3 separate regions of the Homo sapiens genome follow, and regions 1 and 3 are each linked to region 2. Evidence: fine-mapped expression QTL. A gene starts in region 2. Each other region holds a variant in brackets. All regions are shown on one strand. Distances are from middle to middle.

Evidence for each region. PIP is the estimated chance that this variant, and not a neighbour inherited with it, causes the effect.
Region 1: its variant is the best candidate, but not a certain one, in a credible set for the expression of GPR83 in thyroid (GTEx, PIP 0.60).
Region 3: its variant is the best candidate, but not a certain one, in a credible set for the expression of GPR83 in skeletal muscle (GTEx, PIP 0.73).

What each region holds. Positions count from the first base shown.
Region 1 is chr11:94,301,130-94,306,994 of GRCh38, forward strand. It overlaps IZUMO1R (IZUMO1 receptor, JUNO), which reads left to right and starts at 3,451. Exons shown (of 5, transcript NM_001199206.4): 1 at 3,451-3,750; 2 at 4,502-4,645; 3 at 5,384-5,593. The coding sequence starts at 4,508. The variant T/C (reference allele first, on the strand shown) is at 2,916.
Region 2 is chr11:94,398,902-94,404,766 of GRCh38, forward strand. GPR83 (G protein-coupled receptor 83) reads right to left here and starts at 2,518. Exons shown (of 4, transcript NM_016540.4): 1 at 1,960-2,518. The coding sequence starts at 2,346.
Region 3 is chr11:94,095,123-94,100,987 of GRCh38, forward strand. All of the region lies in intron 13 of HEPHL1 (hephaestin like 1), which reads left to right. Among named protein-coding and RNA genes, the nearest start is that of PANX1, 31 kb to the right of the region's middle. The variant T/C (reference allele first, on the strand shown) is at 2,824.

The sequences.
Region 1 (5,865 bases), 98 kb before region 2:
CTGAGAGCTGAGGGGTATGTATCCCTAGACACAGAGGCTGGGCTATGACAGAACAGCCCTGGAAGTGGGGCCCCTGCAAGCGGCAGGACAATGACAGGCCGTCAGGCCTCAGGAGTGCCCAGAGCATCAATGAGAGCAAGTACAACAGATTAAGATCTAAAAGTAAATAAAAACCACATTTAAAAGGGCTGGTGTGCCATGTTAAGGACCTGGGACTTACCTTAAGGTCTAGAAAGGTTTTAAACATGGGAGCATCATAATTGTCTTTACATTTTTAAAAGATCATTCTGAAAAACAAAGACTGCAAACAAATGTTGAACCCTAGTTAATGATATGCATGTTTGAATTACTTAGGAAGACATCAGTTTACTGATATCTGCAATTTACTTTGAAATACATAAAAAATAATAAGACTGATACCTGAATAGAGAGAAGGATGGTTGGCTAAATATATAATAAAGAAAATATAATAAAATGGTAATGGTGAAATCTAAGTGGTGGGCATATGAGAGAGAGTTCACTATAAAATTATCTCAACTTTATGTTTGAAAACTTTCATAATTAAAATACTGATAAAAGAAACGAAATAATTATATGAAAAATATACCTGCATTCTTATGTTTATTACAGCACTATTCACAATAGTAAAGATTTGGAATCAACCTAAGTGTTCATTAACAGATGAATGGATAAAGTAAATGTGGTAAAATATATACAATGATACACTATTCATCCATATAAAAGAATGAAATCGTATCTTTTGCAGTAACATGGATGGAACTGAAGCCACTATCTTAAGTAAAACAACTCAAACAAAAAGTCAAATACTGCATTTTCTCACTTAAAAGTGGAAGCTAAATAATGTGTACACATGGACATAGAGCATGGAATAATAGATGTTGGAGACTCAGAAGGGCGGGAGGGGGTGAGGTATAAGAAATTACATAATGAGTACAATGTACAAAGCACAGACTTCACCACTGTGCAATATATCCATGTAACCAAACTGCACTTATACCCTTAAATTTATACAAATTTAAAAAAATTCTGAGAAATTAGATCATTATGGCTGCTACTTGATTAAAGCTCTGGAAAAGGGTGGGAGAGCTAGTTAGGAGGTTGTTGCAGTAACTGAGGCAAGAGCCGATCATGGTCCAGACAGTAAGTAAGGGATGTGAATTCAAGAGATATTTAGAAAGTTAAATCAACAGCTTCGGCGATTGGATAGACATAGAGTGAAGAATAAATTAATATCCCTATTTACCTCCCTAGACAGAAACCAATTAAGAGTTTACATGAGGATGGTCAATCAGGTTTGGGGTGAGAAGAATTCATGAGACCCAGTAAGAACTCTGAATCACTGAAGTCCCCTTCGGCTGGCCTCTGACATCAGATTCTCACCAGGAGACTCCTGGCTCTAGCTCTTCACTTTCGTAGTCTGTTCTCAAATTCAGTGGGGGAGTGACCTCAGGATGGGAGAGGGGAAGGAAGTCATCACTGCCCAGCATCTCCAGTGGCCCCAAACCAGAGCCAAGGCTGGGTTGCTTCACCTACTGCCCTGCCCTCCTTGTCCTCCCTCAGAGCCCGCTGAAGGCTGCTGTACCTCTTCTTTTGGAAACGCAAGTGTTGGTTTTGTTGTGTGTGTGTGTGTTTTAGAATAAAAATTGTCTTGAATCAGCCACTTCAAATTGCTTCATCTACAGTCAGCTTTGACTTATCTGCTTTCAGTCAGAAAACAGATTGCTATGGAAGGCTCAGTCACAATAAGGCAAAAATGAGCTTTGCTCAAGGGTCTCAAGCTGCATCTCCCGAGAGCAGATGCTGGCCGGCCTGATGGTTCTCTGAAAGGCAGCCTCACTCACTGGGTAATTCCTTCCTCCCTCCCTCCCTCCCTCCCTCCACCTGCATATGCGCTGGCTGCAATTTTAGCTCATTTCCTACAGCTTTGTCCTGGAGACTGTTATCAAGCAAGCCGCCCTTCGTCCTTCTTCACACCCTATGAAGGACAGTTGTCAGAGGACCTATTTCCATTTCAATAATTACTCTTGTGATTCATGTCTGGATTCTCGGCTCTGGCACCTCCACAGCCATTTTAAACTGAACCTTAAACCCCAAATCTCTTACCTTATCAATGCTTGGAGCTTCCTGAATATTCATGAGGAACTGAACAGAACATGACAGCCTGCTTCTCCCTCTGTCAGGCTATAGAGATGCTATTACCATTTGGTATCTGACCCTAAGGAGGAGACTCCAGGCTCTGCTTAACGTGGGGACATGGGAGACTGGGTTAATAACTGTCACTGTTCTAGAATAAAGCCAACACACGCCTCCCAATACATGCACAACCTCATTATGGCATTTAACGTTAAAAAAAAAAAAAAAGCAGACCTCACTTGAGACCCAGGCACCCAGGCAGTATCTACTCTTTTAGTCCCGGAGGTTTCTCCCTCACCTGGTCCTTAAGCATTAGATAGGGAGTCGAGAATACCTGAAATTATATCCCAGCTCTGCTACTCACCGCTGAGCCTCAGTTCCCCACAGCTAAAACAAGGAGGGTGTTCATATTGGAGGTCTTTTTGAGACCTCAGATCCTGTAGACAGTACCAGGCCAGTGCCTGGCTCCTTGTTTGTGCTCAGCATTCAGTGGCTGTGATTACCCAGGTGTGGAGAATGTCATTTTCCAACATTAGTATATGCTTTACACATCAGTTGTAGCTGAACACCACAGAATGTATTTTATTCCATTAAAAAAACGCTTTTAGTGTTTTGTTTTCATTTCCTTTGTATCAATAAAACTTCAGTGATTTCAGCTACTTCTCTTTCAGAGAGAGAAAGAGAGGACATATTATAAAAACAAAGAAATATGCTCCTTTTCCAGCATTTTTATCATCTTTGGGACTCTCCCAAGAATCCTA[T/C]CCAAGTTTCCAATCTCTCCTTAGCTGAAAAGGATAGTCTTGCAAATATGATCACTGCTGAGAACACTTGTAGAATATTTCACAGGACAACGATTCCTGTATGCTAAGGGAGGCTGCTTGGCGGGTTATGGAGGGACTTTCTTTGTTTTGTTTGCTTTGGCTTTGTTTGTATGTTTAAATTCTTGGGTCCCCAAGGCCACACTTCATCTCTGCATCCTGTGTCCTCGGTCTGTGCTCCAGCAGGGACCATAGTTCCTGTGGGCTGTGCGAGGACACTGTCAGAAAAGCCACCAGGTGACTGAGCTGATGCTTGGCTAACAGTGAAGGGGCAGGTAGAGCTACGGAACAGAACATAGGAGGGGCGTGTGGAGAGAGGATAAAAGAATAAAATTTAAAACCATTAAGACTTCCTCTATCCCAGGCACAATGCCAAGGTTTTTGTTCATGAACTTTCTCTTTATTTTTCCAATCCCATAATAAAAACTTCCTTTACAGAGAGAGAAACTGACAGAGAATTTGAGTCATTTTCTCCAGGGCAGCCAGCTAGTAAGTAGCAGAGCTGACAGCCGAACCCGGTAACTTATTGTAGAGCCCCGGATCTTGCCTACGATGGGGTCTGTTTCTCTGAGGAAGCAAACTTCCTCGGAACCCACAGGCCTGCAGAGCTGGGTGAGACAGATGCTGTTTAATGAGAGCCACGTGGAGTTCTCCTCCTGCACCTGGACCTAGTAGAAATCAGACTGGGTAATAAATGGGCGGGACATGGAACTCCCCTCAGCCTCATAGTCTCAGGGGGAGGAGGGAGCAGGAGCACCTGAAGGCTCCTGCCTTGAAAGTGAGTATGAAGAGAGTGCTGGAAGGGGCAGCATCTTTCCTCCTTTTACCTAACAGATCTGATTCTTTAAAAATATTCAAGGCCATGGCTGAGCTTGAAACTGGTTGTCTGGAGAGAGAACAGCCTTAGATTTGGACTTGAGGTTGGGCTCTGAAGAGGGGGGCTGGGCTCTTCTTCCCCAGGATGTTTGAGGCTCTTAGACCAGGGTAGGCTAGAAGTTTCCAGTTTCACCATGATGGGTCCAGGTCAGGCTCCTGCCAGACTTGGGGGACTGGGGGAGCCATGGGCTCCTGGGCTATGAAGGTGAGGGGCCCTGTGTCCTAAGAGGTTGGGTGCTTGAGGCCTGGGGCCCCTCTGCCTTTTGCTTTGTTTTGTCTCTCTTTCCACTACCTCTCATTACCACTACTACCCAGAACAGAGTTGGAAATAGGAAGGGCCCTCCTCCTCATTCCTGTGATGGGGATCAGGCTTTGGATGTAGAAGGCTCCTCCTATCTGACTCATGCCTCGGCATGCCCCTGGCTCTGCAGGGCCAGCAAGGCCTCCAGCACTGTGTCAGGCCTCCAAGGATTATTCTACCTGCCCTGACATTCTGTGATGCTGCCTCCAAAAGAAGGTCCTAGGAGCAGCCAGAGTGTTGCAATTATTTGAGGGAGATTGAAGCCCATCCCCCTTTCCCAGTGCCTGCTATGATGAAGGGGGTGGAGTGGGGTGTCATTTCCATCAAGTGTGCAGCATGGGTCTCTCTGTAGCAGGCCATGGCATGCTGGTGGCCGCTCCTGCTAGAGCTGTGGACAGTCATGCCCACCTGGGCTGGGGACGAGCTGCTCAACATCTGCATGAATGCCAAACACCACAAGAGAGTGCCCAGCCCAGAAGACAAGCTCTATGAGGAGGTACAGAGGCCAGACCTGGGTATGGGATGGGGAAGATCAGGGAAGGGACACAAATGCCAAGATGGTCTCCGAACCTCATCAACCCTGATCATTTGGTTCCTGGGGTTAGGAGTTAAGCAAAGGCAACTAGATGGAAAGAGACTATGCCTTTTTGAGACCATAAGAGCCAAGCGATTCAAAGTTCCCATTTCTGAGCTGCTCTAGCCACTGGGAAAGCAGGGACCGCTGGTGATCCCAGAGATCCATTGTTGACTCGGCACAGATGAAAACAAGCCTTCCTGCCAACAGGTCCTGGGGCAACATATGACTTATGTGACCCCTCCCCAAGCTCCTAAAGGCAATTTCCAGGGATATGGGAGGAAGAACACAGCTGGCATTTGGCCTATGAGACCCTCCCACCCAATGCAACCCCAGATTCCCCTGGGTCTCTCTGGGGCTCTTCTACCTGCTTTGCCCTAAAAGGCTTCTGCTGCCTCTCAGGAGCTGAGAGCCCAGAAGTTGTGTTTCTAGAGGACTGTAGCAGCCTGTGGCAGGGGGTCATTGTGCAGGTGCCTCTGCCCTTTGGGTAAATATTGAGAGATTATCAGGGTTCCTCTTATGTAGGGGCTTACTAGCTAAAGGCATCCCACTTGCTCAGGCCTCCTAAGGGACATTTTCATTTCACCACCTTTCTTCCCTAGACACTTGCCGATCCTTGCCCCTTTTGCCTGGGCCTTTTGTTTCTTCCTCTGCCTTCAGTGCATCCCCTGGAAGGACAATGCCTGCTGCACCCTCACGACAAGCTGGGAAGCCCATCTGGATGTATCCCCACTCTACAACTTCAGCCTGTTTCACTGTGGACTGCTGATGCCTGGCTGTCGGAAGCACTTCATCCAGGCTATCTGCTTCTATGAGTGCTCCCCAAACCTGGGGCCCTGGATCCAGCCAGTGGGAAGCCTGGGGTGGGAGGTAGGAAGCAGATCTGTGCCATGCCCTGTTATTATATTAACAGCCAGAGCTTTCACCCGATCTTATGCTGATGCCGCCAGGATGCTAGTAGGAACAGGAGGTGTTATTTCCCTATGGACAAGAGCAGAGCCAGAGGCCCCTGCTGGAGAATCACATGGGGGAGACTGTTCTGACAACAGTGGGATGAGGGGCTATCACCACAGGAGGCTTGGTGGAGTTGACAGACCTGAGCTTCAGTCTCATGTTCTGTCCCTACCAGCTGTATAGCCCAG
Region 2 (5,865 bases):
AAGGCTAAGCTGCTTTGGCTCATACTGGAGGGGGTGCTGGGCTCTGAGGACCTTGGCATCCTGTCTCTTGCAGGAGATCCTCTGGGGCAGGTATTGCCAGCTCTCAGGTGTAGCCTGTCCTCGCGTCCATGGCCTCCCTACCCCTTCTTGTGTCTGCTGCAGATCCAGCCCTGTATCCTGGCTCTGGGCAGCAGCAAAAAAGGCCATGTTCTGTGGCTTCCCAGTTCCCAACCTAGGTAGCACAGCCCAACCGTACCACTGTAGATTCTCAGGTCAGAAACCAAGGGAGGCGCCAACGGGTGACAGGGATGCTGTTGTCTTGTGCTTTGAGACACCCAGGGAGGAGGAGAGTATTTGAAAGCCCACTCATCCTTGGGTAATGCCCAGGGGATATTAAGTGGCCATCAATACGTTAGACGTAGGCTGAAAGGAGATCAGAACAAGTCCAGGGTTTGGAGTAGCAGAAGCTAAACATGGTCCAAGAGTGTCCTTCACTCCCAGCTGGCTGGTTAGTGGACCGACCTCTGGATTTGAGTTAGGGGATGGAATTCTCATCCTGGCTCTGCCAACTACTGGCCAGGTGGCTTTGGACAAGGGATTGAACCTCTCTGTGCCCTAGTTTTCTCATCTGCAAAATGTGAGTAATATTCTAATAAGTGAGGATGAGAAAGAGAATGTGAGGGTACTTTTTCAATATAAGATTTGGAAGGATGTTCACACAGGTGATGGACTTGTGGGGGTTCATCCTGTGTTTTTTGCTTGTCTGTTATATCTGGTTGTGTATGAGAGATGGCAAGGAGACAGACAGAGAGGGATTAATAGATATTGCTTTAGTAATCACTCAAATGACAAAGTTATTCCATAAAATGAAAAAATATAACACACTAGAGAAACATGCAGTATAACTGTCACTATGGTTGCTCAGTCATCGCCCTTACAGTCCCAAATCATCCATGAGAGCCACACTCCCCGGTCACAGCGGGACACCACCAGCGCTAAGTAGCCAGGGCTTGGGGAAGAATCCCATCAGCTGCCAATGTGCAAATGCCCCCAGCCTGCCCGATTTCTGGGGCCCAAGCCCACCTCCCCTCATTTCTTCCTCAACACAGACCTCAAACACAGCCTCATTATCAACCCACAGAAGGGAAATGCACTTTAAATAAGTGGTCTGGGAAAATGCACTTAATGTTCCATTAACAATTAGCAATTGTTTGATATTTCAGTTGTAGCACAAAGCAGTATCCCATGGGTACGGCTGGGCACTGAACAGGCTGCAATTCAGAGGGAGGGGGACCTGATCATCTCTGCTGACATTTCAGGGGCATTGATTTACTGCTCAATTATCAAGCAAGCCCAGACCCAGTGAGATTAAACAGGAAATGGTCATTCATTTCCAGCTGGCTGCAGACACTCAAACCATTGACCCAATGCCACCGCCGCAGAAGCTCTGGCTGATAAGGCGATGAGACAGAAAAAAGTGGGGAGAAATCAGAGAGTGAGGCAGGGGAGAGAGGAAGAGAGGAGAGGTGGGGAGAGGAGAGGAGAGGAGAGAGAATAGAAAAATAAAATCACAGAGAGACTGACAAGAAGAAAAAGAGATAACAGGTGAGGAGACAGAGACAGATGAATAGGGAGGCTGAAAGACAAAAAAAAAAAAAAAGATGAGGACACTGAGAGATAGAGAAGAGAGACAGAAAGACTTCAGAGAGAGAGACAGAGACTGAAAGAAAGACTAAGAAAAACAGGAGAGATACAAGAACCGAGATGACAGAGGAGGGAGAAAAGAGACTAGGACAGGAAGACAGAGGCAGAGGAGAGGAGAAATGAGGAGGAAGAGAGATGTGGAGAGAGAAGTGGGGACCCACAGGGAGACGCAGAACGGCAGAGGGAGGCCAGAGAACTGAGAGAGGAAAGGGAGACGAAGACAGAAGGTGGGGCGGCAGGCAGCGGGCCCCTTACCAAAGTGAAGGGGGTGTTGAGCAGCGTGATCATTATGTCGGCAACTGCCAGGTTGACGATGAAGAGGCTGGTGGCCGAGTGCATTCGCTGGTTCTTGAAGATGACATGACAGACCAGGACGTTGCCAAAGAGTGAGAAGACAATGATGAAGGAGTAAGCCACAATGAGCAGGGCTTTCACCGTGGGGTTCTGGGACTCAGCGCCGTAGCGCCTCCTGCCCACAAAGTTCTGCCAGTCGGAGAAGGTGTAGTTGTTCCAAGAGAAGAAGTGCGAGGCATTGGGCACGGCCAGGGCCGCCTCCGCGCTCTGCTCGTCGGCCCGGCCCTCGTGGGGCTCGGTGGCTCGCACCAAGGGGAGGAGACAGAGCAGCAAGAGGTGAGGGACCATTTTGCAGGAGCCACCCCTCCCCTGGGAGCCTGCGGGCCGGGCGTCCCCTCCCGCTGGGATCGGAGCGCGCAGCCGGGGTGCGGGGCGCACAGCATACAAGGCCGTCCCGAGGAGCCAGGGAGCCCGGACGCGCGGAGCACCGCGCCGCCCGCCACCAGCCCGCGGTCGGCACGCCAGCTCCGGGTTTGTTGGAGCACTTTTATATCTCTGCTCCCACCAGGCTGCTAGGGAGCGCCTCTGCCTATTGGGCAGCGCGGCGTCTCTCGCGGCGACGGTGACGCGCTCTGGCTCTGACAAGCCTGGCTCCCCCCACCCTACCGGGTGGCGCCGTTGCTGACCCCACGCCCAGCCGTTCCCACTCCCGCCTGAAACTCCTCCGACAGGGCTTCGCTTCGGGGGCTCAGTCCCCAGCGCGTACACACTCGCGTGGTGTCGGCTTAGCCTCTTGTAAAGGAAGCAGGGCAGGCAGGTGGGAGGAAGCCCACAGGGGCACTTGGGATGATGAGGGGGCATGCTGGCAAAGCCGGGTCAGTGACAAGGATATATTCCATTTGTTTCCACCTAAGCCTTAGCCTTGGCACAGTTTCAATATCGAAATGGATCGCTGCGTCCCGGCGGTCCCAGGAAAAAGGCAAACCAAAAAATAGAGACGTTAAGGATTCTCCAAGTCCCCGGAGTATCCAGATACCAGAGGTGCTGGAGGGCTTATTAAAGGATTACAGTTTCTTTGACAGCCCCCAGGAATGCAATCTGGGGAGCTTTGTTTTTCAAGGAAACTCTTCAAAGCAGTTCGGATACCATCAAAGAAGCGAAGGAAAAGAGAAGTTTAGCTGTGTGCTCACCTCTTGGGTAACTTGAATTTTTCTGCCATGGAAGTCCTTGAAGCTATATCTTTAAGGGATATTATGACCCATGCTGTTTTTCCTTCCCCATCTACTTCTTCAGGAAACCTTGCTATCCTGCTCACCCGTTTTCACTTCCACTGTGAAAACTCTCCCAGTCACTGGGTCCTCTGCCACCCACAAGCCTGTAGTAAAGACCATGGGCTCTGTAATTAGGGTTTAATCCCAGCTTTGTCACTTCCTAGCTGTGAAATCTTGGGCAAGCCATTTAACATTTTTGGCCTTGGTTAAAAGGCTTTCTTTTCCTAAATGTGAGGTTTTCAGAGACCCCTGTATACATCTCTCACTGCATTGCCCTCTGGTGCAAGACATGCAATATCTGGTTGACTACTGGTAACCACCCCTGACCCCCAACAGGAAACACCATGTAGATTCTTTACATTGTGTCAACGTGCCCTGGGGAGCAATGTCCTTGGGCTGGGACCCAAACAATGACTCAAACCTAGGTATTACTCTTGTCTCCAGTTTTCCACTTCACATGTACTCTTCAAGCAACTGTGTCTGGAGGAAAGGATGGCTAGCAGATAACCCTCAATTATACTGAAGGACCTGGCAGGTCTCACAGGATTAAATGGCTGAAATAGGGGATTATGTGACAGATCCTAGAAGGGACAAGGTGCTAGGCCGATGAAATAATACATCTTTAGCTCCAGGAAATAAACCAAGAGACTGCCTGTAAACACTGAAAGCTTGGGGGCCGGGCGCGGTGGCTCACGCCTGCAATCCCAGCACTTTGGGAGGTCGAGGCGGGCGGATCCACGAGGTAGGAGACCGAGACCATCCTGGCTAACACGGTGAAACCCCATCTCTACTAAAAATACAAAAAATTAGCTGGGCGTGGTGGCAAGCGCCTGTAGTCCCAGCTACTCAGGAGGCTGAGGCAGGAGAATGGCGTGAACCCGGGAGGCGGAGCTTGCAGTGAGCCGAGATCGCGCCACTGCACTCCAGCCTGGGCGACAGAGCGAGACTCCGTCTCAAAAAGAAAAAAGCTTAGGTAGACTTGCTGCTCCATCAAGATGACCTGGCATCATCTTGAGAGGCAAGGCCGGAATATGATGGTCATTTAGAAAACAGAATCCTAGTCAATTGACTGTGCCCAGTGTCAACAAAGAGTGTATGGATAGAAGAGGAATAGTCAGCGTCAAGCTCAGAGAAAGAAATCAAAGGTAGCCAGTGCCCTTCCAAGCACTCTCTTCCAAGTACCACAGAAGGTGCTTGCTAGCCGGCATATTTGTAATCTGGGCCACCTAACTAATGTCTTCACTTTGATTCCCTGCTCATCATGCCCACCTTGTAAGTGTGAGGGCATTTACACCAGAAGCCTGAAACTTTCTTTCTGAAAGAGGTGAGGTGTTTTAGTTCTTAGCTTTCCCCAAAAGCATCTCCTGTGACAAATACTCTAGTGAGAGGGTTCATTTGGGAGATGAAGGCAAACACCAATAGGGAAGTGGAGAAGTGTGACAAGAAAGGGAAAGCAACCAATAGAGTTTTGTCAAGCCAGCTACCACTGTGGGTGACAAGCTGAAGCCTGCTGGGAAGCCAGTGTAAGGTGTACACATCAGCTATCCAAGCCAAGGGGTGACAGAGCTGTGGTATCTGTACTCCACCTCCTGTTAGTCACTGGTTGAAGGCTTCTCCCAGGGGTCTGCTCCTTCTCCCAGGATGCTCCTGAACTTCTGGCCTGCCATGTGGATAGCCAAAATGGGCTCCAGAGGCAAAACAAGGGCTCAGGCAAATAAATGCTACTGCTGGCAGTTGCAAGTTGCACTGGTGTGCTCTGAAGGGGGAGGCGGTCCTGAGAAAATCCAAGGGTAGGCATGAGGTCTGGAATCACTTCCTCTTCCTCTTCCCCAGGCATTCAGCTCTCCACTCAGCCAGGCCTGGGCCTCCTGAGCCCTGCCAAGCCCTCCTCTTAGCCCAGCACCACTGTCCCAAACTTATCCTGAACTCCTGAAGTCACAGTCTTTGAGACAGAGTCTCGCTCTGTCACCCAGGCTGGAGTGCAGTGGCGTGATGTCGGCTCACTGCAAGCTCCGCCTCCTGGGTTCACGCCATTCTCCTGTCTCAGCCTCCCAAGGAGCTGGGACTACAGGCGCCTGCCACCACACCTAGCTAATTTTTTCTATTTTTTTGTAGAGACGGGGTTTCACTGTGTTAGCCAGGATGGTCTCGATCTCCTGACCTCGTGATCCACCCGCCTCGTGATCCACCCGCTTCGGCCTCCCAAAGTGCTGGGATTACAGGCGTGAGCCACTGTGCCCGGCCGAAGTCACAGTCTTTAATGAAACAAGAATATCCCTTCACCTTACCTCACACGAAGGCTGAGTTATTAAAAGTAGTTCTTTTCTCAGAGGCGTTATGGTAAATCACTGTAAATCACTGTTGCTCTTACTAAGTGGTTACAGGAAGATACAAGCAGCTCTTACAGTGAACCAACCTCTTGTTTTTGTACATTACAAATAAAACCAAAGACACTGAATAGTCAGTTTGTGCCAAATAGTAAGTATATTCCTAGATCTCTAGTAATAGTCACACACAGTAAACACAGAAAAGAGCAGAGGGTTTCACTCTCTCAAATGTACTTGAAACAAACAAAAAAACCAATAAACCACTTCAC
Region 3 (5,865 bases), 300 kb before region 2:
TTTTAGGTCTAACATTTAAGTCTTTAATCAATCTTGAATTAATTTTTGTATAAGGTGTAAGGAAGGGATCCAGTTTCAGCTTTCTACATATGGCTAGCCAGTTTTCCCAGCACCATTTATTAAATAGGGAATCTTTCCTCATTTCTTGTTTTTGTCAGGTTTGTCAAAGATCAGATGGTTGTAGATGTGTGGTATTATTTCTGAGGGCTCTGTTCTGTTCCATTGGTCTATATCTTTGTTTTGGTACCAGTACCATGCTGTTTTGGCTACTACAGCCTTGTAGTACAGTTTGAAGTCAGGTAGCATGATGCCTCCAGCTTAGTTCTTTTGGCTTAGGATTGACTTGGCAATGTGGGCTCTTTTTTGGTTCCATATGAACTTTAAAGTAGTTTTTTCCAATTCTGTGAAGAAAGTCATTGGTAGCTTGATGGGGATGGCATTGAATCTATAAATTACCTTGGGCAATGGCAGTATGGCCATTGGGAAATGGCAGTATGGCCATTTTCATGATATTGATTCTTCCTATCCATGAGCATGGAATATTCTTCTGTTTGTTTGTGTCCTCTTTTATTTTGTTGAGCAGTGGTTTGTAGTTCTCCTTGAAGAGGTCCTTCACATCCCTTGTAAGTTGGATTCCTAGGTATTTTATTGTCTTTGAAGCAATTGTGAATGGGAGTTCATGATTTAGCTCTCTGTTTGTCTGTTATTGGTGTATAAGAATGCTTGTGATTTTTGCACATTGATTTTGTATCCTGAGACTTTGCTGAAGTTGCTTATCAGCTTAAGGAGATTTTGGGCTGAGACAATGGGGTTTTCTAAATATACAACCATGTCATCTGCAAACAGGGACAATTTGACTTCCTCTATTCCTAATTGAATACCCTTTATTTCTTTCTCCTGCCTAATTGACCTGGCCAGAACTTCCAACACTATGTTGAACAGAAGTGGTGAGAGAGGGCATCCCTGTCTTGTGCCAGTTTTCAAAGGGAATGCTTCCAGTTTTTGCCCATTCAGTATGATATTGGCTGTCGGTTTGTCATAGATAGCTCTTATTATTTTGAGATACATCCCATGAATACCTAATTTATTGAGAGTTTTTAGCATGAAGCGCTGTTGAATTTTTTCTAAGGTCTGTTCTGCAGCTATTGAGATAATCACGTGGTTTTTGTCTTTGGTTCTGTTTATGTGATGGATTACGTTTATTGATTTGCATTATGTTGAACCAGTCTTGCATCCCAGGGATGAAGCCCACTTGATCATGGTGGATAAACTTTTTGATGTGCTGCTGGATTCGTTTGCCAGTATTTTATTGAGGATTTTTGCATCAATGTTCATTAGGGATATTGGTCTAAAAGTCTCTTTTTTGGTTGTGTCTGCCAGGCTTTGGTATCAGGATGATGCTGGCCTCATAAAATGAGTTAGGGAGGATTCCCTCTTTTTCTATTGATTGGAATAGTTTCAGAAGGAATGGTACCAGCTCCTCCTTGTACCTCTGGTAGAATTCGGCTGTAAATATGTCTGGTCCTGGACTTTTTTTGTTTGGTAGGCTATTAATTATTGCCTCAATTTCAGAACACGTTATTGGTCTATTCAGTAATTCAACTTCTTCCTGGTTTAGTCTTGGGAGGGTGTATGTGTCGAGGAATTTATCCATTTCTTCTAGATTTTCTAGTTTATTTGCATAGAGGTGTTTATAGTATTCTCTGATGGTAGTTTGTATTTCTGTGGGATCAGTGATGATATCCCCTTTATCATTTTTTATTGCGCCTATTTGATTCTTCTCTCTCTTCTTCTTTGATAGTCTTGCTGGCAGTCTGTCAATTTTGTTGATCTTTTCAAAAAACCAGCTCCTGGATTCATTGATTTTTTGAAGGGTTTTTTGTGTCTCTCTCTCCTTCAGTTCTGCTCTGATCTTAGTTATTTCTTGCCTTCTGCTAGCTTTTGAATGTGTTTGCTCTTGCTTATCTTGTTATTTTAATTGTGCTGTTAGTGTGTCAATTTTAGATCTTTCCTGCTTTCTCTTGTGGGCATTTAGTGCTATAAATTTCCCTCTACACACTGCTTTAAATGTGTCCCAGAGATTCTGGTATGTTGTGTCTTTGTTCTCATTGGTTTCAAAGAACATCGATTTCTGCCTTCATTTTGTTATGTACCCAGTAGTCATTCAGGAGCAGGTTGTTCAGTTTCCATGCAGTTGAGTGATTTTGAGTGAGTTCCTTAATCCTGAGTTCTAGTTTGATTGCACTGTGGTCTGAGAGACAGTTTGTTATAATTTCTGTTCTTTTACATTTGCTCAGTAGTGCTTTACTTCCAACTATGTGGTCAGTTTTGGAATAAGTGCGATGTGGTGCTGAGAAGAATGTTTATTCTGCTGATTTGGGGTAGAGAGTTCTGTAGGTGTCTATCAGCTCTGCTTGGTGCAGAGCTGAGTTCAATTCCTGGATATCCTTGTTAACTTTCTGTCTCATTGATCTGTCTAATGTTGACAGTGGGGTGTTAAAGTCTCCCATTATTATTGTGTGGGAGTCTAAATCTCTTTGTAGGTCTCTAAGGACTTGCTTTATGAATCTGGGTGCTCCTGTATTGGGTGTATATATATTTAGGTTAGTTAGCTCTTCTTGTTGAATTGATCCCTTTACCAGTATGTAATGGCCTTCTTTGTCTCTTCTGACCTTTGTTGGTTTAAAGTCTGTTTTATCAGAGACTAGGATTGCAACCCCTGCCTTTTTGTTTTCCATTTGCTTAGTAGATCTTCCTTCATCCCTTTATTCTGAGCCTGTGTGTGTCTCTGCACGTGAGATGGGCCTCCTGAATACAGCACAC[T/C]GATGGGTCTTGACTCTTTATCCAATTTGCCAGTCTTTGTCTTTTAATTGGAACATTTCACCCATTTACATTTAAGGTTAATATTGTTATGTGTGAATTTGATCCTGTCATTATGATGTTAGCTGGTTATTTCACTCATTAGTTGATGCAGTTTCTTCCTAGCATCGATGATCTTTACAATTTGGCATGTTTTTGCAGTGGCTGGTACTGATTGTTCCTTTCCATGTTTAGTGCTTCCTTCAGGAGCTCTTGTAATGCAGGCCTGGTGGTGACAAAATCTCTCAGCATTTGCTTGTCTGTAAAGGATTTTATTTCTCCACTTATGAAGCTTAGTTTGGCTGGATATGAAATTCTGAGTTGAAAATTCTTTTCTTTAAGTATGTTGAATATTGGCCCCCACTCTCTTCTGGCTTGTAGAGTTTCTGCTGAGAGATCCGCTGTTAGTCTGATGGGCTTCCCTTTGTGGGTAACCCGACCTTTCTCTCTGGCTGCCCATAACATTTTTTCCTTCATTTCAGCTTTGGTGAATCTGACAATTATGTGTCTTGTAGTTGCTCTTCTCGAGGAGTATCTTTGTGGCATTCTCTGTATTTCCTGAATCTGAATGTTGGCCTGCCTTGCTAGGTTGGGGAAGTTCTCCTGGATAATATCCTGCAGAGTGTTTTCCAACTTGATTCCATTCTCCTCGTCACTTTCAGGTACACCAGTCAGACGCAGATTTGGTCTTTTCACATAGTCCTATATTTCTTGGAGGCTTTGTTCGTTTCTTTTTACTCTTTTTTCTCTAAACTTCTCTTCTCACTTCATTTCATTCATTTGATCTTCAATCACTGATACCCTTTCTTCCAGTTGATCGAATCGGCTACTGAAGCTTGTGCATTCATTATGTAGTTCTCGTGCCATGGTTTTCAGCTCTATCAGGTCATTTAAGGACTTCTCTACACTGGTTATTCTAGTTAGCCATTCATCTAATCTTTTTTCAAGGTTTTTAGCTTCTTTGCGATGGGTTCGAACATCCTCCTTTAGCTTGGAGAAGTCTGATCGTCTGAAGCCTTCTTCTCTCAACTCGTCAAAGTCATTCTCCATCCAGCTTTGTTCTGTTGCTGGCTAGGAGCTGCGTTCCTTTGGTGGGGGAGAGGCACTCTGATTTTTAGAATTTTCAGCTTTTCTGCTCTGTTTTTTCCCCATCTTTGTGGTTTTATCTACCTTTGGTCTTTGATGATGGTGATGTACAGATGGGGTTTTGGTGTGGATTTGCTCTCTGTTTGTTAGTTTTCCTTCTAACAGTCAGGGCCCTCAGCTGCAGGTCTGTTGGAGTTTGCTGGAGGTCCACTCTGGACCCTGTTTGCCTGGATATCAGCAGCGGAGGCTGCAGAACAGCGAATATTTCTGAACAGCAAATGTTGCTGCCTGATCCTTCTTCTGGAAGCTTCATCTCAGAGGGGTGCCTGGCCGTGTGAGGTGTCAGTCTGCCCCTACTGGAGGGTGACTCCCAGTTAGGCTACTTGGGTGTCAGGGACCCACTTGAGGAGGCAGTCTGACCATTCTCAGATCTCAAACTCTGTGCTGGGAGAACCACTACTCTCTTCAAAGCTGTCAGACAGGGACATTTACGTCTGCAGAGGTTTCTGCTGCCTTTTGTTCGGCTATGCCTTGCCCCCAGGGGTGGAGTCTACAGAGGCAGGCAGGCCTCCTCGAGCTGCGGTGGGCTCCACCCAGTTCGAGCTTCCCAGCCGCTTTGTTTACCTACTCAAGCCTTAGCAATGGTGGGCGCCCCTCCCCCAGCCTCACTGCCACCTTGCAGTTTGATCTCAGACTGCTGTGCTAGCAATGAGTGAGGCTCCTTGGGTGTGGGTCCATCTGAGCCAGGCACCGGCTATAATCTCCTGGTGTGCCGTTTGCTAAGACCATTGGAAAAGCGCAGTATTAGGGTAGGAGTGACCCGATTTTCCAGGTGCCATCTGTCACAGCTTCCCTTGGTCGGAAAGGGAATTCCCTGACCCCTTGTGCTTCCCAGGTAAGGCGATGCCTCTCCCTGCTTCGGCTCACGCTCGGTGGGCTGCACCCACTGTCCTGCCCCCACTGTCTGACAAGCCGCAGTGAGATGAACCCGGTACCTCAGTTGGAAATGCAGAAATCACCTGTCTTCTGCGTCGCTCACACTGGGAGCTGTAGACTGGAGCTGTTCCTATTCATCCATCTTGGAACTACCCCCTAAGAATATTTTAAGAAATTGAGAGAAAATTGAAAATAATAACCGTCCAACAAATTTTAGATTTATATATACCTTTCTCAGAAAAGCAATTAAAACCATGGCTTGAATCAGCAAGGAATTGATATGTGTGGCCAGACCACCAACTGTCAGTGTATCTCCCTGTGAATGTAGAATGCACCAGATACCCAAGAGAGAGCCATAGGGATCAGGCACTTCTGAAATGGGAGTCTACTGACCATGAAGCAGTGCACAAGTCATGCTGCCACAGGCCCTCTGAGCCAGGTGTGGGCTCATCTCCATTGGCACCCAGCCTGGTTGCTTCCAACAGAAATGCACACACCAGAGGGGCTGAAGAGTGCTTGTCTCCTTGGGTAAACAAATATTGAGAAACAGAGTTAGATGTGCATTTGTGAAGTCACTATATTAATCATAAATTAATACATAAATGATTTTATTTCCCTCTACTCTTTCAGATTCCTTTTACACACATTATTTCATTGGATCTTCATTATTATTGTCATCCATTTACCAGATAATGAATAATTTCAGACTTATCAAAGGTTATACACAGGGGGATTACAACTGAAAGTCACCATATCATGTGGATATGGCTTTTCCTGGAGATGATTTCTCAGTAGTAAAAAAGCATTTACCAAGTACTTATGGTGTATCAGTGCACTGAAGTAAACACTTTTAGATACATTATCTTATTCAACCCTTACTATAATCCCACATAAAAGTTATTACTAAACTGATGTTACAGATGAGGAAACTGAAACTCAGACAGATTACATCACTTACCCAAGGCCCCTCTAATAAATGAAGGA